Regions from separate parts of the Homo sapiens genome. Here all the other regions are linked to region 1. The links come from fine-mapping of genetic effects on gene expression. A gene starts in region 1. Each other region holds a variant in brackets. All regions are shown on one strand. Distances are from middle to middle. Region 1 holds the start of PROM1 (prominin 1). Region 2 overlaps TAPT1 (transmembrane anterior posterior transformation 1). Region 3 overlaps PROM1 (prominin 1).

Evidence for each region. PIP is the estimated chance that this variant, and not a neighbour inherited with it, causes the effect.
Region 2: its variant is fine-mapped to the expression of PROM1 in transverse colon (GTEx, PIP 0.93).
Region 3: its variant is fine-mapped to the expression of PROM1 in tibial artery (GTEx, PIP above 0.99).

Annotation. Positions count from the first base shown.
Region 1 is chr4:16,079,270-16,089,762 of GRCh38, forward strand. It overlaps PROM1 (prominin 1), which reads right to left and starts at 4,754. Exons shown (of 28, transcript NM_006017.3): 1 at 4,709-4,754. RefSeq lists an enhancer at 1-29.
Region 2 is chr4:16,152,944-16,163,436 of GRCh38, forward strand. It overlaps TAPT1 (transmembrane anterior posterior transformation 1), which reads right to left. Exons shown (of 14, transcript NM_153365.3): 14 at 7,562-10,493. The coding sequence ends at 10,365. Among named protein-coding and RNA genes, the nearest start is that of TAPT1, 68 kb to the right of the region's middle. The variant C/T (reference allele first, on the strand shown) is at 5,708.
Region 3 is chr4:16,029,671-16,040,163 of GRCh38, forward strand. PROM1 (prominin 1) reads right to left here. Exons shown (of 28, transcript NM_006017.3): 3 at 9,276-9,331; 4 at 6,065-6,091; 5 at 3,634-3,839. Among named protein-coding and RNA genes, the nearest start is that of PROM1, 49 kb to the right of the region's middle. The variant A/C (reference allele first, on the strand shown) is at 4,502.

The DNA.
Region 1 (10,493 bases):
GACAAAGCAGGGGAAGGGAAATTCCCAGTGAAGTGAAACATAACTGCTCACCGCAGCAAAGATGGGAGACAATGACTTGAGATAGACAGCAACTGCAGTTGCACTTCCAGATTTCTTTACATCTTGCTCCAAAATGTAGGTCCCTCTGAAGTTTTAAAGTACATTTTAAGAAAGTATTAATATCTCACTAACTATGAAATACTAGAAACTGATTAAAGTCAAGTCAAAGAGGAAGAGTTTTTTATCTCGGGTTTAATAGGTTGTGCCAAAAACAGAAGCTCTGAGTATTTACCAGCTAAACCCCACTAGGTCCGAGAGCCACTGAGAGTAGCATCTGTCTCGGGATAAAATGGGGTGTTTAGTTGAAATGCAGACTATTAATGGACCTAATTTCTGGGATGAAACCCATTAATCTGCATTTTTAACAAGCTTTCCTGGGGACTGATCCTTCAAACAAAGTTTGAGAACAGTTCTGTTCCTGGAGTACTCTGATCCTGGAGTACCCGCCTAGTCAATTCATGTCACTTTCCAAGGACACTTCAGGCTTCCCAAACACATTGGAAAATAACACATGTAAGGTGAAAGCTCCCCAAATGCCCTTTTCATATTGCTTTGAATTGATCTACCCCAGCTGCTGTGCAGGTCCCTGGCTTATTTCTGTATCCCCAGAGCCTGGAACACAGTTGGTACTCAATGAAGAATTGCTACCAGCCTGGGCAACATAGAGAGGCCCTGTCTCTACAAAAAAAAAAAAAAAAAAAAAAAAAATTTAAATTAGCAAACGTAGTGGTGCACAACTGTAGTCCCAGCTACTCGGAAGTCTGAAGCAGGAGGATTACTTGAGTCCAGGAAGCTGAGCCTGTAGTGAGCCATAATCATACCACTGCACTCCAGCCTGGGCGACCTTACATGATTTTGAGCCTGGAGTCCAGAGAACTGCATTTCAATACTGGTTTAAAAGCAAATATGGCCCGGGCGTGGTGGCTCAAGCCTGTAATCCCAGCATTTTGGGAGGCCGAGGCGGGCGGATCACGAGGTCAGGAGATCGAGACCATCCTGGCTAACATGGTGAAACCCTGTCTCTACTAAAAATACAAAAAAAATTAGCCAGGTGTGGTGGTGCACACCTGTAGTCCCAGCTACTCGGGAGGCTGAGGCAGGAGAATCACTTGAACCCGGGAGGCGGAGGTTGCAGTGACCTGAGATCATGCCACTGCACTCCAGCCTGGGTGACAGAGACTCCATCTCAAAAAAAAAAATTAAAAATGAAAAAGCAAATATGGTGATCAATCACCTTCATTTCTTCTTTTCTTCTTTTGATGGAACTTCTCAGAATCTTTCTTTTTAAAGAAGAGCTTTGTAGTGGATTTTTGTCATCTGGAGTGCTTTTGGCGGGGGCATGGGGGATACCCAACATCTGAGACCACGTTTGTGAGCTGGGTGGGAGGCAGCCCTGCCTTGCATTGTGAGGTCAGCTGAGGCGCCCAAACTGTGTCCTGGTGGAGCTGAGCCATGCTGGGCCAATCAGAAGCTTTCTTCTGGGCCTGGGCCTGCGCACTCTGAAGCAGGACAGTATCTAATTCATTCCAGCAATGATGGCAGCAATGCCAGTAGCCACATCCAGGGTCCTGTTCTGGCAGCCGCAGCCACCCACCCATCAGGGGTCCTGTGGCATGTCCTAGATTCCTAAGCCTGGCTAGCCAGCCTTGCTGCCACTTACCTAAGCCACCCAGGGACCATCCTTTCAAGAAGTCCTTTTATATATATACATATACATATATATATGTATATGTATATATATTTTTTTATTATACTTTAAGTTCTAGGGTACATGTGCACAATGTGCATGTTTGTTACATGTGTATACATGTGCCATGTCGGTGTGCTGCACCTATTAACTCGTCATTTACATTAGGTATATGTCCTAATGCTATCCCTCCCCACTCCCGCCACCTGACAACAGGCCCCGGTGTGTGATGTTCCCCTTCCTGTGTCCAAGTGTTTTCATTGTTCAATTCCCAACAAACGGTGCTGGGAAACCTGGCTAGCCATATGTAGAAAGCTGAAACTGGATCCCTTCCTTACACCTTATACAAAAATTAATTCAAGATGGATTAAAAACTTAAATGTTAGACCTAAAACCATAAAAACCCTAGAAGAAAACCTAGGCAATACCATTCAGGACATAGGCATGGGCAAGGACTTCATGTCTAAAACACCAAAAGCAATGGCAACAAAAGCCAAAATTGACAAATGGGATCTAATTAAACTAAAGAGCTTCTGCAGAGCAAAAGAAACTACCATCAGAGTGAACAGGCAACTTACAGAATCCAAGAAGTCCTTTATCTGATAAAAATTACCCCCGACTCAGCTTCCACTGTTTTAACAAAGTATCTTGACCCTTAACAAATCTCAGAAATAGCTCTTTGCTCCCTGAAAAACCTATTTCCTTTATATTTTAAACAGTACCAACTTGGTTTAAAGTTTTCAGCTTGTCCTCTGATGCATTTGTTCACCTCATTGTACTAAAACACAAAGAAACTGTCTCGTATAAAAATCAGAAGGAAGTTTAGAAATCAGAAAGAAGTTTAGAAAAGTTTAGAAATCAGAAGGAAGTTTAGAAAAAAATTATGGAACACATGAAAAAAAAAACAAGAATAAACTAAAGGGCACTGCTGAATAGACAGACAACAGCAACAGTAAGGGGGCTCTGGTCCCCCTTACTAACTCTGCCAAGATGACAGTTGTTTGAATTCTCCAACCCTTCTTCTGCTCCTCTGTCAAAGGAGGATTTCGCATAGGGTTCGCAGGCTAGCGATCTAATAGGTAAAGCACCTGGCACGCAGCTGGAAGGCTATCTGGGGTCTGTCTGCTTCTGCTAGCATCAATACTCTGAGCTCAACTCCACCGGGGCTCCTAGGATAACCGGGACAGAAAGGACGGTGAGAAAAGAAAAATGAGTAACATCACACAAGTTGAATCATATGAGGTTGACGATATTCACATCTTCCATCCAAAAAACCGACAATTTCTTATGATTCAACCCAACATATCGCAGCGGTTGTTCGTGTCGCATGAGTCTCGGGGGGCACTCAAGAACTACGATCGTGCACTTGCTTTCTTAACAAAGAACAGCTGCCGCCCTCAGGAACTCCAGCAAACCTTTCTCCAGAAAGGTCAGTCGCCTTAGCGGGCTCCAGGAGCAACCTGTTGCAGAATGAAGCCTGGGGCGCCGGCTTCCCCGCCCTTTACCTCCAAACCACCTCCAGGCCAAGCCCCCTCCAGGCCTAGCTCCCTTCTGGGCGGAAGCCTCTCGCGAGCTGCGGGACACAAAAGAATGAGCGGCGGGGCGGGCGCGGGAAGCCAAGAGACTCCAGGAATTCGCAGCCGCGCAGGGGAGGGGGTTGCCGGAGTAACTTGGCTGCTCTGAGCGCGTCGGCGCCAGTTCCCCGCCGCGGCCCCTGTTGGGCACCGATCGGGGGCGATCTTGCCAGAGAGAAGGGGTTCTGGAGCTAGTTCCTCCCTCCGATCCGACTCCCTGCCCCTCCAGACACGGGCTTTCGGGGAAACTGATCCCGAGCCTCTGACTTTCTACAGCCGTGAAGCTCCTGGTCTGTCCACGCTCCTCTTTGTTGTCCGGTCGGCGTGTTCTGGCAGGGTGCGCCTTGAGCACCCCAGTTCTCCATCTAGCGATAGCCGCGGGTCCCCGCGCATGCAAGCAGAAGGGCCGTGGAGCGAGAGGCTGGGAAGGTGCTTCAAGCCAGGGGTGCATGCTTTCTCCCACGGACGCGGGGAGATGGCCTCGCTTTGTACCCCCATATCCCTACTCCCGCTGTGGTCGGCTGCACAGTGTTGGCCCATTTCCGCACTCAGCCAGGGAAGCTCAGCGCCTCACGTCCCCGGGGCCATCCCTAGAGTTTCCTTTACCGCAGACTCGTTCCCAAGACCCTGGCGAGTCTCACCTCGGTCACCGTTCTCCCCGAGAGCGAGTCCGAAGTCTCTGGGGCCCCGGTCCAGTTCGCACACTCACCTCCGACTCCCGCTCCGGAACCACGGCCGCCGGCTACCCCCACCCCCGCCCCCATCCCCAGTGGATGGAAAGAAGACCCAAGCGGGGCGTCGCGGGCCACCACTCAGACTAAAAAGTTTGGGTTGGACGGGCACCGGCACCACCACGCTCTCCCCGCAGTTCCTCTGGCCCCCAGCCGCTGTCCGGGCCCGCACCACCTGCTGAGGGGCCAGGGAGGCGGCGCAGATGGCTAGGGTAAGGGGGGCGCAGAGCGAACCCGTCCACTCCTCACTGTACACCCCCAGTACAGTGGAAGGAGTGCGCTCAGCCCCGCGCCTGGTCAGCAGATGCCTCTCTCGCTCCGGGATGAGGACCCAGCTACTCACCGTGCACCCGGCTCCCGCTCCTGCTCCCGCCCTAGTCACCGCTGCCGCCGCCCTTCCCTTAGCTCGCCAGACCCTGGCTCGTGAATTATTTATGACCCGGCTTCTGGGACCACCGCGACGGCTTTCGGAGAGCCCGCCTCCCACTGCCGGCCGCGGAGGGGCTCAGGCGGCGCTGCGGCCGGACCCTCGGACGTGGCGGGAGGCAGGAGAAAGGCCCGGGTGCCCGGGGGGACCCGTTGCGGCTTCCTCTGTCCCGGACGGGGACCTAGGTATGGGGCCGCCGTAATGGAAAGGATTCCTTAAACATACTCACCGCGGCGGGAGAGCTGAGAGCATGGCCAGGTGCCGCGTGGGGATCTGCCTCAGTCACTTAAAGATCGCGAAACCCGAGCCCTGGACGCACTCTGATTGGACCGGCTGAGCTGCTTCGCCACGTAGCCCTGGGGCGCCCACCAGCACCTGGACAGCATCCATTTCCTGTAGAGGTGCCTGCTCAACCCCCTGCACTCCCTTCTTGCAACGCTTGCGCCTCTTTTCCCCCCGCAGAGTCCCTTACTTAGAATGCAGCTACCCTCCTAAAAACTCTCCTGTCTCATCCCGGCCGCATTAGACCCTTCTGTTGCCTAATCCCAATGCAATTTAAAACAAAACAAAACAAAACAAAACAAAACAAAAAACAAAAAAACAATCATTTGGATCCTTAGTGTGCAGCAGTACCAATGCTAGTGGCTGAAGCGGTTGAAAAACAGCATAAAGCCATATTCGCTCCCATGTGTACACACAGGCATCTGCTATAACGTGAAGCCACTGCAACTTCTTTTCTCACTGCCTATTGGTCTTCCCGCTCTGTGAGTTACAACTCAACCTCGGAGTCTTCACCTTGCTACTTAGCTGAGTGGTGGAAACCTGTCAGAAGTAATCACTCGGTGTCTAAGTGTCCTCACCAATTTGCACTTCACTCTTATTCACCACTTCTTATCTTGAATTGAGAATACTGTACTCTCCGGCAGGCAAAAAAAAGACTTAGGGAAGAAATGCACCTTCAGGATGGTGTCTAGCATACAGCAGGTGTTTAATACATGTTTGTGATATGGATAGACAGATGAAAGGATGGATGCACAAGCTACAAATGAATGATAGACAGGAACATTAAGTCAGTACCTTTTTCTTTTTACCCCAGAATCTAACATAAAACAGGTACTGGAAAATAAGCATTTTTTGTTTTTAATAGTTAGATTGATCTTGAGTGTGTATATTTCTAGACAAGAAATGTTAGTTCAGAAAACTTCCAAAAAGTACAGTAGGACATGGCAAGGTTAGATGGTTTGGCTCTGTGTCCCCATCCAAATCTCATATTGAATTATAATTCACTGGGAGAGGGACCTAGTGGGAGGTGATTGGATTATGAGGGCGGATTTCTCCCTTGCTGTTCTCATGATAGTGAGTGAGTTCTCAGGATATCTGATGATTTAAAAGTGTGTGGCACTTCCCCTTTGCTCGCTCTGTCTCTCCTTCTGCCATGTGAAGATGTGCTTGCTTTCCCTTCTTCCACCATAATTGTAAGTTTCCTGAAGCCTCTCTGGCCATGCCTACGGTACAGCCTCTGAAACCCAGTCTCAGGTAGTTCTTTATAGCAATGTGAGATCAAACTAATATGGGTGGAAAACAAATCTCTTCTAATCAGGGCAGATTTCCCCTCTGCAGCCCCTGCAGGTCAGAAGTTTCTGGTTGAACATCTGCTGGGGTCCCATAAACCTTCTCCTAGATAGCACTTTTAGGCTGGAGCTAGCAAAAGAGGTGATTTCTCAAAGGAGTGGGTCCTGATCTCCGTCAAAGTTTGGTCCCGCCTCTTTTAATCGCTGTGACTTTGGCTGCTTAATATTTCTCTGAGCCTCAGTTTCCTGGTCTGCAAAATGAAGACAATTATAACTCACAGGGCTCATTTTCATTCCTAATAATATCAACAACAATAGTATCAGTAGAAAGGGGTGAAGCAAGATGGTCAAATAGAAGGTTTGACCACCCACCCCCCACCCCGGCTAGGAACACAATTTAACTGCTATCTACACACACAAAAAGCACCTTTATAAGAACCAAAAATCAGGTGAGTAACCACAATACCTGGTTTTAATTTCATATTACTGAAAGAGGCACTGAAGAAGCCAGGAAAGACAGTTTTGATTTGCCAATGCCGCCAGTCCTCCATCCCCCAGCAGCAGCAGCCTTGTGGCTTGGGAAAGGGAGAGTGCAGTGATTGGGAGACTTTGAATTGAACTCAGTACTGCTCTGTCATAGCAGAAAGCAAAACTAGGCTGAACTCAGCCAATTTCCCTCAGAGGAAATAGCCCATACCAGTGGTGAAAACTTGAGTTTCAGTAAAGTGCTCTGGGGCCCCAAATAACCTTAAAGGCAGCCTAGGCCACAAGGACAGCAACTCCTAAGCAAGCCCAAATGCTGAGCTCAGAGCCAGTAGACTTGGAGGGCATGCGACTTACTGAGACACCAGACAGGGGAGCTAAGGGAGTGCTTGTGACACCCCTACCCCAACCCCAGGTAGTGCTGTTAGTGGCTCTTCATCACTGCATGCCCTTTTCTAGCACTCATGCCTCTTTTACCCCAGCAGAGCTCTCTACTTGGAATGCAGCTACCCTCCTAAAAATGCTCCTCTCTCAAAAACTCTCAGCCACATTAGACCCTTCTGTTGCCTAATCCCAATGCAGTTAAAAAAACAAAACAAAAATAATCATTTGGATCCTTAGTGTCTGCATCAGTCCCAATGCTAGTGGCTGGAGTGATTAAAAACAGCACGAAGAGACCCATTCCTTCTGCTTGAAGAGAAGAGGGGGAAGAGTAAAGAGGACTTTGTTATCTTGAATATCAGTTTAGCCACAGTAGGACAGGGCATCAGTCTGAGTCATCAGACCCCCATCCCAGGTCCTAACTTGTGGATAACATTTCTAGACACATCCTGGGCCAGAAGGGAAACTGCTGCCTTGAAGGGAAAGAAACAGTCTGGGCAGGACCCATCACCTGTTGGCTAAAGAGCCCTTGGGTTCTCAATAGCCAGAAGCAATACTCAGGTAGTACACTGTGGTTCTTGGGTGTGACTCTGAGATCTGCTGGTTTCAGGTGAGACCCAGTATATTCCCAACTGTGGTGGCTAATGTGAGAGACTCCTTCTGCTTGACAAAAGCAGAAGGAAAAGTAAAGAGGATGTTTTCCTTCCCCTTAGGTACCAGCTCAGCCACAGGGAGGTAGAGTACTAAGCAGGCTCTTGGGGTGGTCTTCAATGCCCAGACACCAATGAATATCCAAAAGCTTCCAGACCACCCAGGAAAACATGACCTCACCAAACAAACTAAATAAGTCCCCAGGGAACAACCCTGGAGAAATAGAGATATGTGATGTTTCAGACAGAGAATTCAAAATCAATATCTTGAAGAAACTCAGAGAAAATTAAGATAACACAGAAAAAGAATTCAGAATTCTATCAGATAAATTTAATAGAGATATTGAAATAATTTTAAAGAATCAAGCAGAAATTCTCAAGTTTAAAAATGCAACTGACATACTGAAGAATGCATCAGAGTCTTTCAATAGCAGAATTGATTAAGGAGAAGAAATAGTGCACTTTTAAAGACAGGCTATTAGAAAATACAGTCAGAGAAGACAAAGAAAAAAGAATAAAAAATAATGAAGCATGCCTACAAGATCTAGAAAATTACCTAAAAAAGCAAATCTAAGAGTTACTGGCCTTAAAGACAAGGTCGAGAAAGAGATGGGGTAGAAAGATTATTCAAAGGGATAATATCAGAGAACCACTCAAACCTATAGAAAAGTATCAATATCCAAATACAAGAATTGTATAGAACACCTAGCAGATAAACCCAAAGATGACTACTCCAAGGCATGCAATAATCAAATTCCCAGAGGTCTAGGATAAAGGATCCTAAAAGCAGCAAAAGAAAAGAAAGAATTAACAAACAATGGAGCTGCAATACATCTGGCAGCAGACTATTCAGTGGAAACCTGACAGCCCAGGAGAGAGTGGCGTGACATACTTAAGCTGCTGGAGGGAAAAAACTTTTACCCTAGAATAATATATACAGCAAAAATATTCTTCAAACATGAAGGAGAAATAAAGACTTTCTCAGACAAACAAAAGCAGAGGGATTTCATCAACACCAGACCTGTCCTACAAGAAATGCTACAAGGAGTTATTCAATCTGAAAGAAAAGGATGTTAACAAGCAATAAGAAATCATCTGAAGATATAAAACTCCCTGGTAATCGTAAGTACACAGAAAAACACCGAATGTTATAACACTGTAACTGTGGTGTGTAAACTACTCTTATCTTAAGTAGAAAGACTAAATGATGAACCAATCAAAAATAATAACTACGACAACTTGTCAAGACATAGACAGCACAATAAAATATAAGGAGAAACAACAAAGAGTTTAGAAGCAAGGGGAGGAAGTTAAGGTGTAGAGCTCTTATTAGTTTTCTTTGTTTATGTAATCAGTGTTAAGTAATTACTAACATAAAATAGTGGGTTATAAGAAGATAGTATTTGCAAGGCTCACGAGAACTTCAAGTCAAAGAAACACAATGAATACACAAAAATAAAAAGCAAGCTATTAAATCATACCACCAGAGAAAATTACCTTTGCTAAAAGGCAGACAGGGAGAAATGAAAGAAGGAAGAGAAGACCCCAAAACAACCAAAAAGCAAATAAAGAGCAGGAGTAAGTCCTTACTTATCAATAATAATATTGAATTAAATGGACTAAACTCTGCAATCAAAAGACATAGAGTGGGCGAATGGATTAAAAAATAAGACCCATTGGTCTATTGCCTACAATAAACATATGTGACCTATAATGACACAAATAGACTGAAAATAAGGAACATAAAAAGATATTCCAAGCCAATGGAAACCAAAAAAAGAGCCGGAGTAGCTATATTTATATCAGACAAAACAGACTTCAAAACAAAAACTATCAGAAGAGACAAAGGTCATCATATAATGAGAAAAGGCTCAATTCAGTAAGAGGATCTAACAATTGTAAATGTATATGCACCAAACCCTTGAGCATCTAGACATATAAGGCAAATATTATTAGAGCTAAAGAGACTGCTAGACCTCAATACAATAACAGCTGGAGACTTCAACATCCCACTTTCAGCTTTGGACAGATATTCTAGACAGAAAATCAACAAAGAAACATCAGACTTAATCTGCACTGTAGAATGAGCCTCATAGATATTTACAGAACATTTCATCCGATGCCTGCAGAATAGACATTCTTTTCTGCAACACATGGATCATTCTCAAGGATAAACCATATGTTAGGTCAAATCAAGTCTTAAGACATTTTTTAAAAACCTGAAATAGCATCAAGCATCTTCCCTGACTACAGTGGAATAAAACTAGAAATCAATAACAAGAATGATTTTGGGGACAGATACCCCATTTACCCTTATGCCTTATTACACATTGCATGCCTGTACCAAAATATCTCACATAACCCATAAATATATGCACCTACTCTGTATTCACAAAAATTTTAAATTAAAAAAAAAACAGAAGTAGTGAGAGTAACACCCACACTTAACGAGCATTTACTATGAATGAGGCGCTGGGCCCAGTGCTTTAAATGAATTATTTTATGTAACCTTAGCAACAACAGCAGTTTGAGATCATATTATCTCTATCATAAAGATAAGGCTAAAATAGGTTCAGTAACCTGAGGTCACCAAGGTAGTAAGTCAAGCACTAAATTTGAACTCAGATCTGGCCCATGATCACCAATGCACCAGAAGATAACATAAAACCTTTTCAGGCCACTGCCACATTGGATTGAAATGGGTGGCTATCTGCCTTACGGTAGGGCACCAAATGCTTCAACTGTTTTCACCCATTTCCATACCATATACCAACATCTCCACCTGGACCATTGTGGTTGTTCAATAAGTGAGTGAATTAATAATAAACATAGAACACAATATTATGACCTAGTCTGGGCAGCCTTTTGCAGGCAGTGACAAGACCTAAGGATTTGTTCCATTCAATTCCACTTGGAACTCTCATTCTAC
Region 2 (10,493 bases), 74 kb after region 1:
GATTTCCAAGTCTCACTGAGGACCTGGCCTGATTCCTTGGGTGGGACAAGGAATTTCCATCTTTTAATGGATGCATTCAGATCCTCTAAACAAGTGGATGACCTTTAATTCATTAACTTTTTTAAATCATTAAGAAAAACATTGACATCAAAAAGAAAAAGATACAAACATGTCACTAAAAATGTACTGAAAATATCTAACTAATGTTAATAATATGTTTAATATAAACATATTAATATGTTAATAATTAATATGTTAATAATAATATGTTTAAATATTCATTACATTCTTAAATATTTAAATATTTCATTACATTCTTAAAACTGGGTACCTTTTTTAAAACATCTGTAAGCTTGGCAAGCCTTAGGAGGCCACTCATTCAACCCAGGGCTGGTGAAAGTGTGGAGACTTCAGGCACGCTTCTACACTTGGTGCCTCTGGAAAGCAATTTGGCAACAGACATCAAGACTTTGTCCAACTAATTCCGCTCTCAGAATGCATCCTAAGGAAATAATCAGAGAATTTGTCCAGCACAAAGGAAGCGATTAAACAAATGAGGACTTGGCCATACATGGGAAGTCTACATAGCCTTTGAAAACATTTTAAATTATTGACATGGAAAAATGCCCACTACATGTAAAGGGAATGAAGCATGTCACAAGCCAACATATATGGTAGAGTCTCACTGAGGTATACTTACATGTAGAAACCTATATCTATTATATATTATCAGAAGGAGTTGAAGAAGTATGCACCAAATTAGATGGTGAAATTATAGGTATGCTGGGGTACACGTGCAGGTTTGTTATATAGGTAAACTAGTGTCACGGGCGTTTTTCTTGTACGGATTATTTCATCACCCAGGTATTAAGCCTAGTGCCCAGCAGTTATTTGTTCTGCTCCTCTCCCTCCTCCCACCCTCCACCCTTAAGTAGGTCCCAATGTCTGTTGTTCCCCTCTTTGTGTTCGTGAGTTCTCATCATTTAGCTCCCATTTATAAGTGAGAACATGTGGTATTTGGTTTTCTGTTCCTGCATTAGTTTGCTAAGGACAGTGGCCACTTATTACTTACAGAATGAAACAATAAAAGCTCTAAAAATGTGTGTTAATCGCCATTGCTTAAGCCAGGAAGCAGGCTACTCTCCCCACTGTCCCCTCCTCAGGGCAGAACAGCAGTGCTGGAAGCCCTGTGCTGGCCTACGGTGTGAAGTCCCACTTCCCAGCCCAGGCACTGCATCTGGACTCTCGGAAAACCAGGGCCTTGGTTTCCTGGTTGGCACATGGATATCCCCATTCATACTATGCCCACCTTGCAGGGTGGAATCAGAAGTCAAGGAGAGAAAAGAATTATCTGTACATGGTGGCACATGCCTGTAGTCCCTGATACTTGGGAGGCTGAGGTGGGAGGATCCCTTGAGACCAGGAGTTCAAGGCTGCAGTGGAGCTATTGTTGAGCCACAGAACTCCAGCCTGGGTGACAGTGAGACCACATCTCTGAAAAACAAAAGAAAAAAAAGTGCCAGGCATCACATAAATACACCTCACGCTGTCACAATTCCTTAGTGAGAAAATAGGTGATTCAACAATATAAAATATAAACAGGATAACCAGAACAATCTATTCATAATCCAAATGCTAAAAATAACACTCAGCAAAGCCAATCTATGGAGAATTAGAATCACATGAAAGTCTGGAAAATGTGAACTAAAAGGAGGGCAGGAGGAATGGAAATTCTGTTAAGTATGCATGCTTTTGTTAGAAAATGATTTAAGAAAAAGAATTTTGCAAGAGCTCTTGTGGAAGGCTGTCCTGAGGCCTATAGGCTGCATGATGGTTACGGGCCGGCACTCTGGGATCAGAAGGACCAGGCTTGAAATCCTGGCCCTGTTCCTCCCTAGCTGGGTGACTTTGTTGAGAAAAGAGCCTCCCGAGCCTCAGTTTCCACATGTGTAAAATGAGGACTTTTCAGGGACATTGTGCAAATTAAATAAGGTAATGAATTAAAAGGGTCTTGTATGATGATTTGTAGTAGATATTTAATAAGTATTGGTTTTAGGCTGGGTGCAGTGGCTCACGCCTGTAATCCCAGCACGTTCGGATGCTGAGGAGGTGGATCACTTGAGGTCAGGCGTTCAAGACAAGCCTGGCCAACATGGTGAAATCCCGTCTCTACTAAAAACACAAAAATTAGCCAGGTGTGGTGGCATGTGCCTGTAGTCCCAGCTACTTGATAGGCTGAGGAAGGAGAATTGCTTGAACGCGGGAGGCAGAGGTTGCAGTGAGCCGAGATTGCGCCACTGTACTCCAGCCTGGGCGACAGAGTGAGACTTCTCCAAAAAAAAAAAAAAAAAAGGATTGGTTTTAAAATTATTATTAATACTACAGCACTTATTTCAAGACAAAATTATTTGATAACTTCTCAGGAGTACAGGACAACAGCAGCCCTGGAATAGGGGTCAGATGCTTTGTCAGAGCTGCTTTAATGCTGAGATCCCATCATCCTAGGACCTAAGTCATCTTCGAACTCATCTTTGAAAGAGAAATGAACAGTGCATTTATATCCATAATAATTGCAAGGGAAAGTCATCTTATTTTCTATTGTGTTTTGGATAGAATCTGAACTTCAAAAAAATTTCATCTTGTCAACTGGAAAAAACATTTCCAGTTCTCAGCACAATTCCCTCACTGGGAGAGTGGAACTGTTTCCTGCTGCTCGGTGGGGAGCTTACAGATGCTCGGTGGGGAGCTTACAGATGCTTCCCTCTTGTTTCCCCCGGGCATCATTTCAGAGAGTAGCAGAACTGGAGGCCATTCATCACCATGATCATCCAATGAGAAACACAATTAGATAGAAGTTGACTTTGCCTACTAGGTGGTGTCAGCATTGAAGAAACAAATGGGTAAAGCTAGGTTCAGAATCCTCTGTCCTGCGTCTGTGTTGCCAAAGGAAGTGTTAAGGTTCCTGCAAGAGGCTACTGCTGCTTTGCCCTTCTGAGGTGGAGACAGAGCCAGGCCAGGCTGGGGGTTCCTGGCCCTGCCCTGGCATGAGTCCAGGCCTGCCTGAGCCTGGTTTATATCACAGAAACAGCCCTTCGCTAGCCTCTCTGATTTTATGCTACTTGCCCTGCAACCCGTTTTTCGGAGAGCAGAAGACAGTAATATCCTAACTCTTTATCTCGTCCTTGGACCAGTAGTAACCTAACTCCTCCGGTCCTGGGGCTTGGATGACCTGGACTTCCACTCCCATACCAATTAAAGCTGCAACCCATTCCCACCCCCATGTCCTCATTTCCCAGCCCTAATGAACTTCTTTCTGCTCCTAGGATACACTCTGTTCCCTCTCAATTCAGTAGCTTTGAACTTGAGGGCCTCTGCCACATGACATTCCCTTAGTTCAGGTCTCTGCTTGTATGTCACCTTTAGAGGCTTTCCCTGACCATGTGGTTTCAAGAAAGCATCATGTCCCTATCACCTTACCTTGTTACCTCTGTAGCACAGGTCGCCTTCTGAAATGCCCCGTTCACATTTTTATGATGTTTTCTCTACTGGAATATAAGCTTCTAAAGAGAGGGGATGTGCCTGCCTTGCTGGCTGCACCAGCAACTCCTAGATGGGTGGAGATGCTCAGTGAAAACAGACTGAATCCCCTACAAGGTGCTTTGGTGCTGAATCACGCCACTTAGTGGATTGTATATCCTTTCTCCCTTCCCCAACTCTTGGTGATTAAAGCTTTGGTATCATGAGTGCTCTATGATTTCTGCAGGACTCGTCTGAAAGGTACTATTGCCAGAGGATGGGGTGGAGCCCTGAGGATGCGGTAGAAGCAGCGCGGGGGTTTCAGGAAGATCTAGAAACCCCTGGTCCTAGCCTGCTCTGCCTCTGTCTAGCTGCCTGGCCTTGAGTGAGTGACAGCAATCATGGATTTTAAACAGAATGTAGTCATATGCTAGAGAACTTCTGGCCCCCAAATCGTGTTTTAGTCTCTCCAATCTTTACTTTGGAAAAAGTAGAGGTGAGTTTTTGGACCCATCACCCTGAAATCTAGATCCTAGAGGATGATGACTTTCCACGGTTCTCACACTTTAGTGGGGAGACTCGCCCAGGGGCCTGTTAAAACAGATTGTCCTGGCCGGGCGCAGTGGCTCACACTTGTAAGCCCACCACTCTGAGAGGCCGAAGTGGGTGGATCACTTGAGGTCAGGAGTTCGAGACCAGCCTGGCCAACATGGTGAAACCCTATCTCTACTAAAAATACAAAAATTAGCCTGGCGTGGTGGCGCACGCCTGTAATCCCAGCTACTCAGGAGGCTGAGGCAGGAGAATTGCTTGAACCCGGGAGGCGGAGGTTGCAGTGAGCTGAGATCGCACCACTGCACTCTAGCCTGGGCGACAGAGCGAGACTCCGTCTCAAAAAACAAAGGCTCTGTCTAAACAAACAAACATTGTCCAGCTCCACCCCTGAAGTTTCTGATTCAGCACATCTGGGCAGGGCCCAGGGATCTGCATTTCTGGTCTGTTCCCAGGTGATGTGATGCCACTGGCCCAGGGACCACACTGTGGGGATCACTGATGTGGGCTGCGTCATCATAGCTTAGACATGTGTGTTGCCTTCACAAACAGTTTCAGATGCATTATCTGATTTGCTCTTCACAACCCTGAGAAGTGGATATTCTCAACCCTGATTTGCAGATGAGGAGACTGAGGTTTGCTGTGTTGCACAGAGCAAGGGTCTTGACTGCAACATCACACGGCAGGCTAGCCCTCCAGAGTATCTTAGAGGGGTAAATATCCCAGAGCTCAGTACACCCTACATCCCTGAAGTCCTCGCACTCTGCTGTGAGTGGCTGCAGGCACTTCCCTCAAGGGGTTTCCTTATCTGGCTTCTCCCTTCTCCGTAAATAGCAGAAGGCAGAGAGCTTGAGAGCTCCAGTTTTCCAGTTCAGGAAGGCGGTTTAACTTTCTGCTGTGCTCCTTGCTCCTTGTGTGACCCTGAACAAGTTACTTAACCTTTCTAAGCCACAGTTTTCTACTTATAAAATGGGGTAAGTGTCTGCTTTAGAGAGACATAAAGGTTCAATGAGAAGAATGTAGAAAATGAGCTTAGCCCTGCTTTCACACGAACACAAAAGCGATTACACAATAATCCTTTACAAGGACACCACCCTGACTTTTCTAAAACATTGATCTGTTCATAGCACTTCAGAGTTTACCAAGTAGTTTTTTTTTTCATTTCTCATTTGATAATTACAACAACTTAAAATTCCACTTAAGCTCCTCCACCCTTTGTCTATAGGATTAACCGTCTAAGATTCTTAGCAAGGCATTAAGAGCGCTCTTGAGATCTAGCCCCTGCCTCCATCCTCCATCTCGTTTCCCCAGGGATGGGACGGAAGCTTCCCTCCTCATCTTCCCAGCAAGACAGCTGGCACTTAATGGGGAGTGAAGGAAACCTGCGCTGCAGCTTCCGCTGTGCTCTTTCCTCTTTTGTTCATTCGTGCCTTGCCCTTCCTCTCCCTTCTTATCCATCTAATTCCTACTTGTTTCAAGGCGGCCCAAGTGCACACCTTCTGCAATGGCCCCTATGTTTTCTTCATCCAATAAATGTTTATTGCCTGCCTGTGTGTGCCAGGAACGAGGTGCAAGGGCTACAGCAGTGAATGTGGTTGAATGTTTTGCTGCAGCCAGAGGCGTGGTTTATGGTGGTACT[C/T]ATCACACAGGGCTGTAATTGCCGGGTCAGCCCCCCAGTCTTTAGTGCCTTGCTAAGAATCTTGGACTTTTCACTGTCAGATTACAGTTAAGCCCCATGGGCAGAAAGCACAGCTCCTTCATTTCTGTGCTCTGCTCAGTGAGTGCAATTAATATCTGTGAAAGTAAGTCCAACAAGCTTTTTATGCCTTTTCCTTGTTATACATTTCACTTATCTGGTTAAACCTGACATTATGGCGATTTCTAATCTTCCCAGTATTTACATTCTTATGTTGACATATTAAAAATGGAATGAGAATGTGCTTATTGAAAATAATTGCAGTTTCAAAATTAACCATCCACTTCGAAGATTATTCACACTGCAAGAGCTCATTCATTCTGTAGTCCCTGAGCTAATACCTCTAAAAAGAGGCCAAAGGGGCCTTCAAGACCTCCCTTGGTTTCCTTATAAGCCAAAAACAAAAAACAAACAAGAAAACCCAAGAAACAAAACATATAAATAAGCAAAACATATTGTATTGATACCTACCTTGTCATTAAATATCAAAAACCTCAAATACAACTTTACTACACTATGCATAACTGTGCCTTTTGCCAACTTGCTGATACATTTACTCTCTTAATAAAATTTAGAACAGCAATGCCTTGTTTGCTCAGCACTGCTAAGCAATAGTTCCTCCCTATAAGCAAACTTTTCAGATAACTCAAGGTCCCTGAGAACGCCATTTTTTTCTGAACAACTTCCCCTCAATTGTACGAACCTTAATTTGTATCAAACACAATCCTTAATAGTATGTAATGAACACAATCTAAATCATCCTAGATCTCACTTACTGCATACCACACATCACATTGACCTGTAACACAGTTTATTGGCAATCACAGGCATGGCATCACTGACGTCAGGTATATTTTTACTGCTCTCTTGATTAACTCCTCTTGCTTCTACTTCTCCTTGCTGTTAAGCTCTACTTACACTTTACTCTTTTACTATACACACTTTTCTGAGATAAAGGGCAAGAAATGTCTATTTGATAGAGTATATGGACAAATAGAACTTTGCCACTTATGGGCAAGTTTAATGTTCAGTTCAAGACAGCCAAGGGTGCTGAGAGTCTGACCTCTGAAAAAGTGGGGTGGAGTAATCTTTATCTTTTTCCATATAAATAATAAATAATGAGTATCCAGAGAGAATTTTCAGAAGAATGTGTTTTAGCAAGATAGGTCTAACTCCTTGCTCCTTTTATGTAAAGATCTCTAAATAGTCCCTCTCAGATTTCCTAATGTACTAATGTGGGCTAAACTTCATGAACAGAACACAGAACCTCCAGGTTCAGTGGCTTAGAAACAATGGCATTTCAAAAGTTTCTCTCTTATGTATAGTCAAGCGGAATTTTCCAAGCTGACCAGCAACTCTGCTCCACAGCGGCATTCAGGGACCCAGGTTCCTTCTCTCTCATGGCTCTGCCATGATGGGCACCTACTGGGACAAGGTCACTACCTTCTCTGGGTTCCACCTGTGGGAAGGGGACAGAGGAGGTGAGGGGGACTCACCCATGGTCTTAAGGGTCCTGGCCCAATAGCGGAATACACCCTTCAACTTACATCCCCTGGGAGAATGAGTCAGCTGGCTACAGGTAACAGCAAGAGGGGCTGAGAAATGCAGTCCCCAGCAAGCAGCACATGCCCAGCTACAACTCTACACAATGGAACAGGAGAATGGATTCTGCTGGACAACTAGCAGTCTTCAGGGAGAAAGTCTTTTCTTATTTCTATTTTATAGAAGCACTGTAAAATTGCTATACAATTATCTTATTTCAAGCTAATCCAATAGGAAAAAAATCAGACTTACACAAACGTTTTAAAGAACTATATTTTAGAGCTGAAATAAGCCTGAGAGATCATTTGGTCAGTGGACACTCTGTGACCAGCAGACATTATTTCATCGACTTGTTCCTATCAGTCTTCCACAGACGAACAGGGACTTATCTTGCTCATTGCTGATCCCACCACTTAGAACAGTTTCTGACACATAGGAAGTGATTAACAAATCTTTGTTGATAAAAAATAGTTGAAAACATGTAACAATGTAGAGATATTACATTATTTTGTAAATTTATCTCCTCCTCTGCTGAGTTACCAGGAGTGGCAGGATATATTTTGATGGCCTAATTATAGCAAGTTTCTTTCACTTTATGTAACATGAATATAAACTCTAAATACTGGCCAAAGTCCACAAGAAAATCTGGACAAGCGTATCAGTGACACTTGGTCTTTACACTTATTCTAAAGGAAAACCTAATAAGGGTCTGGCCTATCCTGTGCCTTCATTAGATTTTTTTAAAACCAAAGCACTGTCTTGAACTTGACTCCCAGATGTGAAAAATATTTTGTGTGACATTCAAAACACTTGTAAAATGCAAATACCTTCATTTGCTGAGAAATATTAAATGGTCTATAATCAAGGCCGAGCCTATTTTTTCCAAAGACAAAATTAAACATTTTGCCACCATTAAGACCAAAGCAATAATTCAAATTAAGATAGCTCTATCACTTGTGAATTACAAATAAATACTTATTATACAGTGGGAAATTCACTCTACCAAATACAATAGTAAATATTAAAATAAATTCAGTGACCTTTTTAAAAAAGATTACAAAACTGAATTTATTGAGATTCACACAAGATGCACTTATAAAATTAGTACTGAATGCCATTAAAACAGAAGAAATGAACATAATCCCGAACTCCCAACAGCATCTGCAAAGGAATGGAAATCTTCTGAAAATGACAGCGCAGTAACAGAATAATTCAAGCGGAACTGAAGATCTATCCAAACCATGTTCCTGCTCTGAAATCAGGGTTGTGTTTGGCAAAGCTTTCCCCAAACTATTCCATTCACGGTGGCATTGTTCCTTTTGTTGGTAAAGGGAGATGGAAAAAATAATTCTAAAATGGGGCTCCATTAAAACACACACAAAGCAATTAAAACCTTTTTCATTTTTAACTTAAAATACTTCCTGGTTTCACAAAGGCATGTCCATACAATTTCCTCAACATTAATCTTCAGATTTCTTTAGTTAATGCAAAACATTAAAATTCACTTACTTTTTTGTATTTCAAATGAACAAGTCAGAACATTAAAGCTTGCTTTATATTTCATCCAAGAAACAGACAAATCACCTAAAAATTGCTTTCTGCCTATGTATGTACGCCTGAAACATTTGCATGAGAGCTAAACTTCAAAATCAAAACATCAAAGGAAATAACAGTTAACAGTACCATCTTCTGGACAGTTCTGACACCAGAAGTTGTAGAAGTTTTACAGAAATGCAAACACGGTTGTCAAGATAAAATGGGGTGGGAAATAACTTCTATGATATAGACCACAAACTAGTAATTAAGCGGAAACACAATCTTCATCTCAAATAAAACCAAAAAGCACCTTTTGGTTGCTGTTCCCAACAGCCATACACAGATGCCTCCCCACACCAACAGCCACCCATACGCCTCAAACACCCCATTTACTTTCACACAAAATCCTCTCCAGACCCAGGCCTGCCCCATCCCCAGCACAGGCCCACCCTGATAGTCACATCCCCACAGACACCCTCCCACAGAACACACACCCTGCCCCAGCACAGGCACACTCGCTGTCGACCCAAACACAAAGACTAATGCATTTGGTAAGCCCAAGCAAGATGATGCTGTCTAACACACTTGGAGCATTTACTTTACAGTTAAAGTTGACAGTTTTGAATTTTGTACATTGACAATTTTTCAGCCTGTTCAACATCGAATCCTTTTAGCTGTAATAATTTATGAAGTAATTAGTTTTAAAGCAAAATCAGTTAAGTATACCTTAAAGTTAACACTGCTCTGCTTCCTTGGTGTAAAAAGTGCCCTTTTGTAAGGAAATTTGTTTTATCCACCAATTAAATGACATACAGCTCACATTTTGCTTTAAAGAGTAAACTGAAAAATTATGAAGGATTTTTCCCAGTAATGCATAGCCTTCATTAATTATTTTTTTAATAAATAAACTAGTTTAGCATTTTTTTTTAACCCTACAAAATGCTACTATTCATCATGTCTTATTTAAGGTAGCCTTTTATTCTGATTAATTAAGATACATCTTTAAGGGTTATTCTGGTGGTAAGAACATTTATCTTGACTTATGTTTAATTTTTTTAATGCTTTGGCAGATGAAGTAACGTTTGAAAACTGTTTGTGAAAATAGTATGAGACTGGAAAGATTACGTCGTGGTAAAAGTTTCACAGTTTTCCAGGTATTTCCTTATACTGAAGAGGCCTTGAGGCAAATTCAACATTCTGGAAGCCCAGACTGACAAAGCAAAACAGATTTTGATGTTGCCTTTGTTGGGTCCTGGAAATGATGCTGCTGCTTGGCCAGGCAGGAGGAAGTTTTATAATCCATCAAGCTTCCCAGACAGTCAAGGCCGGAGGTCGCTCCTGTCCTGTGGTCTGACCCTCAGCCAGGCCATATTACTGGAAGAAAGATACTAAGATTTGCTTGCCAATAATAATTTAAGTTTTTAAATAAATATTTAAGTGCCATGTTTAGCATCTATTTGTCCTGGCAACACAGCACTTGTTGCCCCAGGACCCAGCTTCTTCAGCGCATGAAGCCACAGATTCAGTCAATTCGGTTTCCACAAATTGTGAACCTGTCTATCTCTAACAAATCTTTCTTTGAGGATCTGTGTTTTAATTCAGAATTGTCCTGCGTTATGTCCTTCTCGTCACCATCTGGAGTTGTCAAAAA
Region 3 (10,493 bases), 50 kb before region 1:
AAGATTTACATTTTTTAAAATAAAAAAGGATGCTCAAAACTAACTTGAAAACCAACTGCATTTAATTGTAATATTTTGAGCCACAAAATGAAATTGAGTCCAATAAAAGGCAGGTGGACTGCTCTGGGTTTCTGAAAGAATTTTTTAAAAATCACATGCAAAGATTATTTCTCAATAGTGTCCCATCTCCGCTGAAGTCAATGTCAGCTAGAGGCCCTGCATTAAACAAGAGAGAGTCCACTCTCCTATCTTTCCCTCCACTTCCTTTCTTTCCCTTTCTGCCTTCCAATTTTGTTGACATTCTTGTCCTTCTTATTTTTATCTAATCTTCTGATTTTGTTGACATTCTTTCTTCTCCTGTCTAACTACTCATAATAGAGAAATCTTAACTTTCCCCAGGTCTTTAATCCTCCTGCCTAGCTTGGATTACTTGCAAACAATATGTAGGTATTATGCAACTCATGATGTTTAAGGTATTTGCAAACCAGTGGGGGTTTCAAAAGGAAGCCATTAAAATAGCTACCGTAAATCAAAAAGTTCAAGGCAAAGAAGCTTAAATTCTCATCAGAATTTAAAGTGAGAAAAAAAAATTCACACACTACTCTTATTTAAGCCTATTTATAATTTATACATAAATTCAATGTGCTATATGAAATCAAATTAGTTTTAGTTTTGTCACAATCTCAGTTGATCAATTTTGGTTTAATTATATTGAAATCTAAAATTACAATTTTCACATTAATGTTTTACTTGGGTGGGGAAAAAAATTGTTTTAACTGAATGTGTAGGAGGGTATAGAATCACAGCATGCATTTTTAAAAAGAATTTTCTAAATTAAAATATACTTAGAAAAAACATATATTGATTTGATAGGTCTGAGTTCTCAAGAATTAACAAAACGGTAGCTTTCATTTTATATATAAATGGAAGCCAAGTTTATTTTTTACTTTGTAGCTTTATTGTTGATATATTTTGGCATTTTCAACATAATGTAAATAACTCAATCAGCTGAGAGTGAACTATAACATGCATAACACATAACTATATGTAATGCAAATAAAAGTTCAATTTTGAAAAAGAAACCCATTGTAGTGGCTAGGCACGGTGGCTCACACCTGTAATCCTAGCACTTTGGGAGGTCGAGGAGGGCAGATCATTTGAGGCCAGGAGTTTGAGACCAGCCTGGCCAACATGGTGAAACCCCGTCTCTACTAAAAATACAAAAATCTGCCGGGCCTGGTGGCGCATGCTTGTAATCCCAGCTACTAGGAAGGCTGAGGCACAAGAATGACTTGAACCCGGGAGGCGGAGGTTGGAGTGAGCTGTGATAGCGCCACTGCACTCCAACCTGGGTGACACAGCGAGATTCTGTCTCAAAAAAACAAAGAAACCCAATATATTGGAAACCGATTATTACACATGTAAACACTTATTCAGGTAAATAAATAACTACATTCAATAAAGAATTTTCCTGAAATTATACTATATGTATTGACATCAAGTGAAAATTATTAACTTGTTAAATAAGTAATCATTCTAACTAGAAGCCCTAAGGGCAATATTTTCAGATGATGCTTTCACATCCGAGTCTCATCTTTGAGGTCCAGGGTGTATGGAGCGGGTAAACATGGCTGTGCAAGTGTCTAGACAAATGTGGCGTGTAAGTTTCAGGCTTACAGGAAACACACCAGGGATCCCTGGTGGGTTTGACAGGTTTCAGGGCTGTAACCGAGATTCTTCTGGTAGCTGAAAAAGAGGTAACTACCCCTATAACTAGGAGTCTGTGCATTCCTTAGAGTATATCAAATACAAAGCAGAGAGAGACAGGGACATTTGGAATGACCACTACTGACCTGATCCCAAACTGCCTCTCAAAATCAAATGTGAAAAAAATAGCAAGGATCAAATGATTTTTGGAGACACAGAGAAAGAGACAGACAGTGACAGAAAAATACAGAGAGGCAAGGAGAGACAGAAAAGGGAAGAAAAGAGAGAGAGAGAGGGAGAGAGAGATTGACAGGCAGAGATGCCCACACCCCAATGTCATGGAGACAAAACAAGTAACTCTCAGGCTAACCAACAATGCATGAAGTCAGCTAACACATTCACTTGGATCTTGTTTACACACATATATAGTTAAGGTCGATTATTCCACTATTATGAGCAAAAGTATGTCTTTGCTTAAATAGTCACTGCCCTGGAGTAAGTGGTAATGCATTGGCCTTTGTCTGTTGTGAAGATTTTTTTTGTCACTGTTCAAGTTTCAGTTAAGTTAATTCAATAGGTAATACCCGAGCCTGGTACATAATCAAAAGAGACAAAAAGCCCAGCTACAGCAAGAAATGAGTTTCCTTCCTTCCCCTCCACAACCCTCAATTTCCTTTCCAGAGGCAACCACTGTTGCCAGTTTCTTGTCAACCCTTTCACATCCCATCTGCTCTATAAAAATATGACCCAGTGCTTGTGTCTCCTTCCTGATCTTTTTTTTTTTTAACATAGTTACCATGTTCTACACATGGTCTGCAACCTGCTTTTTCACTTCATCTGTCATGGTGACTGGTATCAACAAATCCAGAGCTGCCCAGTCCTCTTCAATGGGTACACTGCATTCCAATGAGTGGTCACCCTAAGCCATACACATCTTATCAGACCCCTGCTGGTGGCCACACTTAAAGGCTTTCCTTCTTGGGTTTGCAGCTAGAACTCCAACTCACAGGACTTACTGTTTTCTGTTAAAATTCCTGAATATCACTTCCTTAGTAAAACTTGAAAAAAATCTTACGGCTACTGAGCACGTGTGGTGTTTGGAGAAACAACAAAGAGAATGCTGTTGGCCAACCCTTGCTGTGCCTTCATGTCATAGGCACATTGATTTCTGCTGCTGCATGAAACAGTGGCGGAATGAATGAGGAAATGTGGAACAATAACCAAGCAACATAACAAGGGAACACTGCTGTGGCGCACTCATCTTCAGATGAGCAATCTAATTTGGACTCGAAAAAACGTCATCTTAAAAGCAATGTATTTCTGATCTGCCAGTCAACTGGAAAACTTTTGAAAGCAGCAGACACTGCAGCAGAAATACCCTAAATCGTGAAGTGTGTTCCAGACTTAAGGGAGGGTAGCGGATTAACAGCACATAAAAGAAAAATGAGTTTATTATTAGAAAGTCAATTGCATTCTACAATATTTTCAAATTTCCAAATTCAGGGACTGCATCAGTCCATCAAGATTCCTTTGGACTCAACTAGCAAATCAACTTGCAGATCCATCTCTCTTTTCTGCATGCTGCCTGCCTGCAAATAGCTAATTAAGAGGAGTCTGCTGTGCTGGGAGGTAAGTCCTTTCTGCAGTCCAAGATTTCTCAGGATACCTTCAAGAGGAAAAAAATACCAAAGGGCTGGCTCATCAGCTCAGCTGGGGCAGCTTCATTACAACGCTAATGTCTGATGATAATGAGATCCTTTCGAATCACTCTAGACAAGCGCTTGTGCTCTCTCTTTTCTGTTTGGTGGGTTTTTTTTTCATTGTTGCTATTTTGTTTAGTTTTAAACTCATGGTTTAACCATAAAAATGTGAGACACTCTTCATCAGCCTAAAACACAATCAGTTGTTGTCCAATATTGTACTTGCCTTATTATTATACAAATCACCAACAGGGAGATTGCAAAGCATTTCCTCAGGAAGGGCCCATTTTCCTTCTGTCGCTGGTGCATTTCTCCACCACATTTGTTACAGCAACGACACATACAAAAGAAATACCCCACCAGAGGCATCAGAATAATAAACAGCAGCCCCAGGACACAGCATAGAATAATCCCTGCTTCATAGTAGACAATCTGCAATTCAAACAAAAGAAACAGCACATATTGTAGCACAAAATAATAAGTAGAACATTCCATGGTGTACAAAGTTCTTTTTTTTTTTTTTTTTTTTTGAGACAGGGTCTCGCTCTGTTGCCCAGGCTGGAGCGCAGTGGCGCGATTTCGGCTCACTGCAACCTCTGCCTCCTGGGTTCAAGCGATTCTTGGGCCTCAGCCTCCCGAGTACTGTATTTTTAGTAGAGACAGGGTTTCACCATGTTGTCCAGGCTGGTCTTGAACTCCTGGCCTCAAGCAATCTACCTGCCTCAGCCTCCCAAAGTGCTGGGATTACAGGTGTAAGCCACCGCACCTGGCCATGTTTCATTTTTTTAACCTATCTGCCATCATTAGTTGAATCTGAATGTGTACATATATATATATATATATGTATGTATTTTTTTCCATTTTGAAACTCCTTTTTGAAACAGAGGAAGCAGAGAATTGAGTAATTAAATACATGGCCAAGTGGTTACTGGAAGATGTCTTTCAACCCCTAGGAAGATGTCTAAATGCTAGTTTGAGCTGCAAATGGTTTAATTTTAACCCCAAAGGTATTTTGTTTGTTTTTAAATGGATCAATAAATCTTGGCAGGAGTACTTGCATAACAATCTACATATAAGGCGCTTTGCACACTGCA[A/C]AAATAGAAGTTAAAGATTCAAAGCACTTTGGATTGGCTGGCAAACAATTACTCAAGAATCTGGAATGTATCTTAATTTAGAAAAAAGGCTCAGACTCTAAGTCAGGCACGTTAAACACAGGCCAGTCACAAGGTTCCTCCTCTGATACACTGGAAATAATAATACGTACCTTGTCAAGTCATTGTGAAAATTAGAGATAACGCATGATTAGAAATAATGTGACAAAGGACCAAGCACTGAGTAGACACTTACTAAAGGTGCCTCTCATGCCATGCCCAGGAGCCAGATCCACAGTGAAGGACCGACCTTGGCAGTCCGTGTCTCAGACGGTTCCTGAGTTCCTAGGAACAGCACAATTTCTAGATACAATCATGTGACCTAAACATATTTTCATAATCACTGCTGACTTTATTCCGGGATAAACGAAAATTAATGCAACTAGATGATGAAACTTGATGTCATTCCAATTCATGCATGTAGCTGCTTATATTTCTAAAGAATGGCAGAAAATTGCAAGTTGGCAGTTTGCAACTAAATGGACAATCTAGACAGCTGCGAATTCTGAAGCCAAGCTGAGCAAAGGAAAATAAAACACGAGTCTTGTTCCTGGGAGCAAATGTGATGTCTTGGAGGAGAGACCTGCTTTACATCCCAGCAGGGGGCTTCCAGGTCCCTAAAGTGGATGGTGTCACATTAGCATTAACTTCATAAACATATTGTGAGGGACAAATAACTAAATGACTGAATGTGAAAACAACTAGCCAAGTGCCCAGCACACAGTAGATATTCAATAAATGGTAGTTAACTCTATGAGCAAATGCTCAAGACTAGTAAATCTGGTGCATCTGGCACTTGAATATTATCTACTTCCATATTAAGATTAAATTGCTTAAAAAAAAGAGTGGCTGAATCTTGCTGGGTTCATCAAGTATGTGCTCACGCTTAAGCTAACCCCCATCCCATGTCCACGAAGAGGCATTATTAGGGGACTTAACCCTTCCTCGAGGACCAATACCACTTGTCAGTTAAGAAACCAGCCCAGACATTCCAAACTCTTACTTACGTATTTTTCCATCATTTCTCAGCAAATATTCTAAATTGTTTACTATTTTAAAGAAATGTAAATTCTATCTGAATTCCAGGAGACACTGAACCAAAACCCAGGAGAGAAGATATATTGAAATGTTTTAAATGCACTAATTTTAGCTTTAAATACAAATTGTACATTTGATAACACAGCCTTTCTAATGTTACTGACTAAATATCAGGCAGTATCAGGAACAAGATACGGCATTTCAAGAGTTCACTTCTAGGCCGACTAGACGAAGGCCTGTCACTACTTAAACTGTTTTTTGATACACCAAGATCTTCCAGTGCTTTGTTGATTGTGTTGAAGATCAACATGTAAATATTACAGAGATATCTTTCTTCAAAGAGAAGGTTAAAAGTGATGGTAAAAACAGAAATGAAACGGATCATTTAAAAATCTTCACAGTGAGGATGACAGTGAAGAACAGAAAGGCTTTCCAAGAGCAACTTGAAATAGCAGACAAGGACTTTACCTTTAGACCTAAGATTACAGTTTCTGGCTGTAGAAGTCAACGCAGGTGAGGAATTTTGGCAGAGGCAGCATGCATCAAGAAAACAGACAGAAAAAGTTATGAGTGATCAACCATAACCAAGAACATTCATATCCCACAAGGAGGAAATTGGGTGATAGAAGGATAAACATGAGAAAGGAATATAAAACTTGAGTGTGAATTCAAGAAACAGTGTTTTAAGTTGCTCTGAGTTCTGAAATTTACATTTGCATTTACATTTGGATTTCCCAAAAGGTTCTTAATCCGTATGCTAATCGGTTACGCAAAGGAGAATTAGAGGGGAAGTTACAAATGCTTAACACACTAACCATGTGATCTTCATAAAATAGAGAATCAGATCTGAGAACTCCAGAACCAACGGCAGCATCTTCCCAAGTGCCCTTTTCTAAAATAAAAATCTGATGGTGTTATTCCCATGCTTAAAGCGATCAACGGATTCCCACCATTTTTATTCCAAACATCTCAATGTTTGATTTTAAATGTCCTTTCGTGGCAAAATAAAATTAGGTGGCTCTATGTCATTTTCTAGATCACTTTTTTGAAATATTCTGGTCCAGGAAATCTAAAAGTGTAGAAACTATTGCCTCAGCTGGCAGATCTTCACAGCTCTGAGGGAACACCATTTGTGATGGGAATCACTTTTAAATGAGGCATCCAAAATACTGGGACTGGGGGGCAGTTCAGATATACCTGCCTCTGGGGTCACACAGGGCATTTTAAATGATCCCGGTCTCCCTTTCTTGGGGAAGGGGCACGCAGGCTTGTTACCAACCAGGGCACAAGCTCCCAAGCTCACCAGACACAAAGAAGCACCTCACAGTGTGTGTTAAAGAAAAACATTGACTCCTGGGCTCCTCTGCTACAGCACATGAGTCAGAAGATATGGGTAAGACCAGGAATCTGTGTTCCCTGAGCCTCCCAAATAAACGACTTGCCCTGGAGTCATTGGTGTAGGGTCTGCTTCAGGGGGAACCAACCCAACACACTCAGCCTTTATCAGACTAAATCTAGTCAGAAAGCCCTCCTCTAGATGTGGCCTGGATCCTTTGGTGCCTTTGTTTAATTAACCTCTTTCTTTGGATAATGGTAGAAAGCATGGTCCAGTTCCACATCTAGAGTAGGAATCAGCTCATTCATGTGGGCTCAGTTCTGCATCTTCTCTCCACTGCACCCCCACCCAGAGTTTTTATTCATTTGCAAAGGCAAGGAAAGAGAGCAGGAGCCAGGGGTATAAACCAAGGTTATGGGAGTGCCAAATCTAATACCAAGTCAAGCACAAAGACCCTGCCAGGGACGGTGGCAGCCCAGCTCCAGCTCAGACTCACAGGTTCCTCAAGGCCACCTAAGGGTCTCAGGACCTCGTTCTCCAAGTCCCGGATCCCACTGAAGCACTGCCCCTACTCTCATTCCTTGGTTGGCATTCGGGCTGGCTAAGCATGTTATGCTAATTTTGAATATAAATATAAAAGCAACTGTCATTTTCTTCCCCCCAGAGATACAGGCCGACGTGACAATCACATTGGGAGATATAAATGAAGCCTGTGGCACTGAGGAATGAAAATGCTTTCCACGGTGCTGGGGAAGGCTGTGAGCCCTGGGAACAGCTCAGTTCATCTTCCACACAGTCTTCCCTTGCTGAATGTAAACAGCCTCTAGATAAGGCTTTCCTCTTCTGCATTTACTTTTCTCTTGAGTATAATTTTCTTGCAAGTTAAGAATATGATGAGGCCATTTGTAACTACCGTATCTGAGGTAACGATTCACTGGGCAAAAGGGAACTGCCTTCTCCCATGCCGGAAACACTAGCATTCAGATTTGTTGTGCAGGCCAGTAAAAAACGTCCACCTATACATCTGCTTACTGGTAGCCCGATAACCGCCTTCAAACCAGGAAAGGAAGGAACAAAGTGCTTTACTTACCGAGAAGGACTGAGAACCTGGCCAACACATTTAACTAATTTTTATTACCTTACATTCAGTGCTACACACTTTTGTCTGTTTGCTTCATGGGCAACCTACAGTCATAACACACCAAAATCGAAAGACCATTCTCCTGTTTAGGTAGGCAGTCGCAGAGGAGTGCATTGGCAGCAACTTGGGTAATAAGCAGAAAAATGCAAGGAGCCTTGATACTTTCTGAAAATACTATGGATTCACTCAAGAGAGGCGTTCAAGGCCCTCCCAGGATCAGGCCCCAACTTACCTTTTTTTCTCTCCCTCTGGCCAGGGGCCTGCTTCTTTCATACCTTGACCTCTTTGCTCACATGTTCTGAAGCCTGGAATGTGAGAAGAGCGCCCACCCATCCCACCGGCTCTGCCCTTGTATGATCCTTGTTACATTAACTAGATAAGGTCCCTGCTATCTGTCTTCTAGCCTCTTGAGACCAAAGGCTATCATCCTTATCTCCACCTTCCTTCATTTCTAGCCATGTCCTCACACAGCAGGAGCTTCATAAACCTTATACAAATGCAAAGCTACTTTTTAACAAACGATGTTTTATAACAGAGTACACAGTCACCATCTCTAGGAATTTTCAAACAATTCTACTTAATGAGGGAGTTCTCATCCCTCAGCTAAAAGAAAAGTAGCGTAATATTTCTTTTTGAAGAAATTTTAGTTTTTATTTATTTATTTGTTTATTTATTTTGAGATGGAGTCTCACTCTGTCACCCAGGCTGGAGTACAATGGCACCATCTCGGCTCACTGCAACCTCTGCCTCCTGGGTTCAAGCGATTCTCCTGCCTCAGCCTCCCGAATACTTGGGACTACAGGCGAGTGCCACCACGCCCGGCTAATTTTTGTATTTTTAGTAGGGATGGAGTTTCACCATATTGGCCAGGCTGGTCTCAGACTCCTGACCTGGTGATCTGCCCGCCTCAGCCTACCAAAGTGCTGGGATTACAGGCGTGAGCCACCACACCCGGCCTTAGTTTTTAATTTTTAAGTAACATACAACTTGAAAGGTTTTCTTCAAATGCCGCTTTTGAACTTTCTGCTATGGTTCAAATGGGATTTGTAAGGTGGTTCAATATTCCATGAAAGTTCTTAGTCAAAAAAGATTACTAAAATTGCAGATTGAATAACTGGTTATTTAAAGATTTACTTTCAAGTCAGCCAAAATTTTTCTCATACTTCGTATTTTTAATAATAAATACACCAATGAAAAATTACCTTGTCATAATCAATTTTGGATTCATATGCCTTCTGTAAGAATTTTCTCAAAGTATCTGGAAAAAAAGCCACAAAATAGCAATATTATTTTTTCAGTAAAATTATAAAATGCATATTTAGAAAAAGATCTTTATATGCTTAAAAATTATTATACCTATATTTCTATTATTCTTATAATTTTATTCTTATTTCTTAATGTAGGTAAATAATTAATGACCTCTAGCCAGAAGCCAAGAATAGAAGACAAATACTTCTGATTTACTATTTTGTCAGTGACAGAATTAGAGAGTTGTCATTTTTAAGTTAGTAATTTATCATAATACACCTTAATATTTACCAGCAAACCGCATACAGCTTATTAATAATCATTTATAAAAATTTTGCTGAAATTGCTAATTCTTAATTGTCTGGAAACACAAATGAAATTTATTGTTCAATAATTCCACATTTGCCTGATATTAATATTTTACAAAGGAATGGATGAAAGGAATCTTAAAATTAACTCAACCCGGCAGGATGCCGTGGCTCACACCCGTAATCCCAGCACTTTGGGACACAGAGGCAGGTGGATCACCCGAGGCCAGGAGTTCAAGACCAGCCTGCTCAACATGGTGAAACTCCGTCTCTACTAAAAATACAAAAATTAGCCAGGCGTGGTGGCGCATGCCTGTAATCCCAGCTACTTGGGAGGCTGAGATGGGAGGATCACTTGAACCCGGGAGGTGGAGGTTGCAGTGAGCCGAAATCGCGCCACTGCACTCCAGACTGTCAAAAAAAAAAAAAAAATTAACCCAACTCGAGTTCTTAACATGGGAAATCCTTCTCTTCCTGTCTCCAAGCAGTGCATAAAAACCTATGCAATGCAAACTGGAACTTTTCCATAAATACTCATTTAGAGTATTTGCAAATTCTCACATAGGCCTGGGACCAAAAAAGACTAAGAGCCACCTCTTAACCCTGAGCAGCCATCTAAGAATGATATGAGACAACTGAGACATGGACAGAGAGGGTGACATAGTGATTCGTGAGGAGGCCAGACCAAGGCTCAGGACTTCCTTCTCCTGTGCGGGTGCCTTCCCGCCACCTGTACACTCTCTCTCACCCCAGGAAGGAGCTTCTGCAGTGCTATCACTATATCCATCACGCCTGAAATGTACTAATGGGGGGGCAAACGAAACACTACATCAACTCCTTTTTTGATGCAAAAAAGTTCAGATT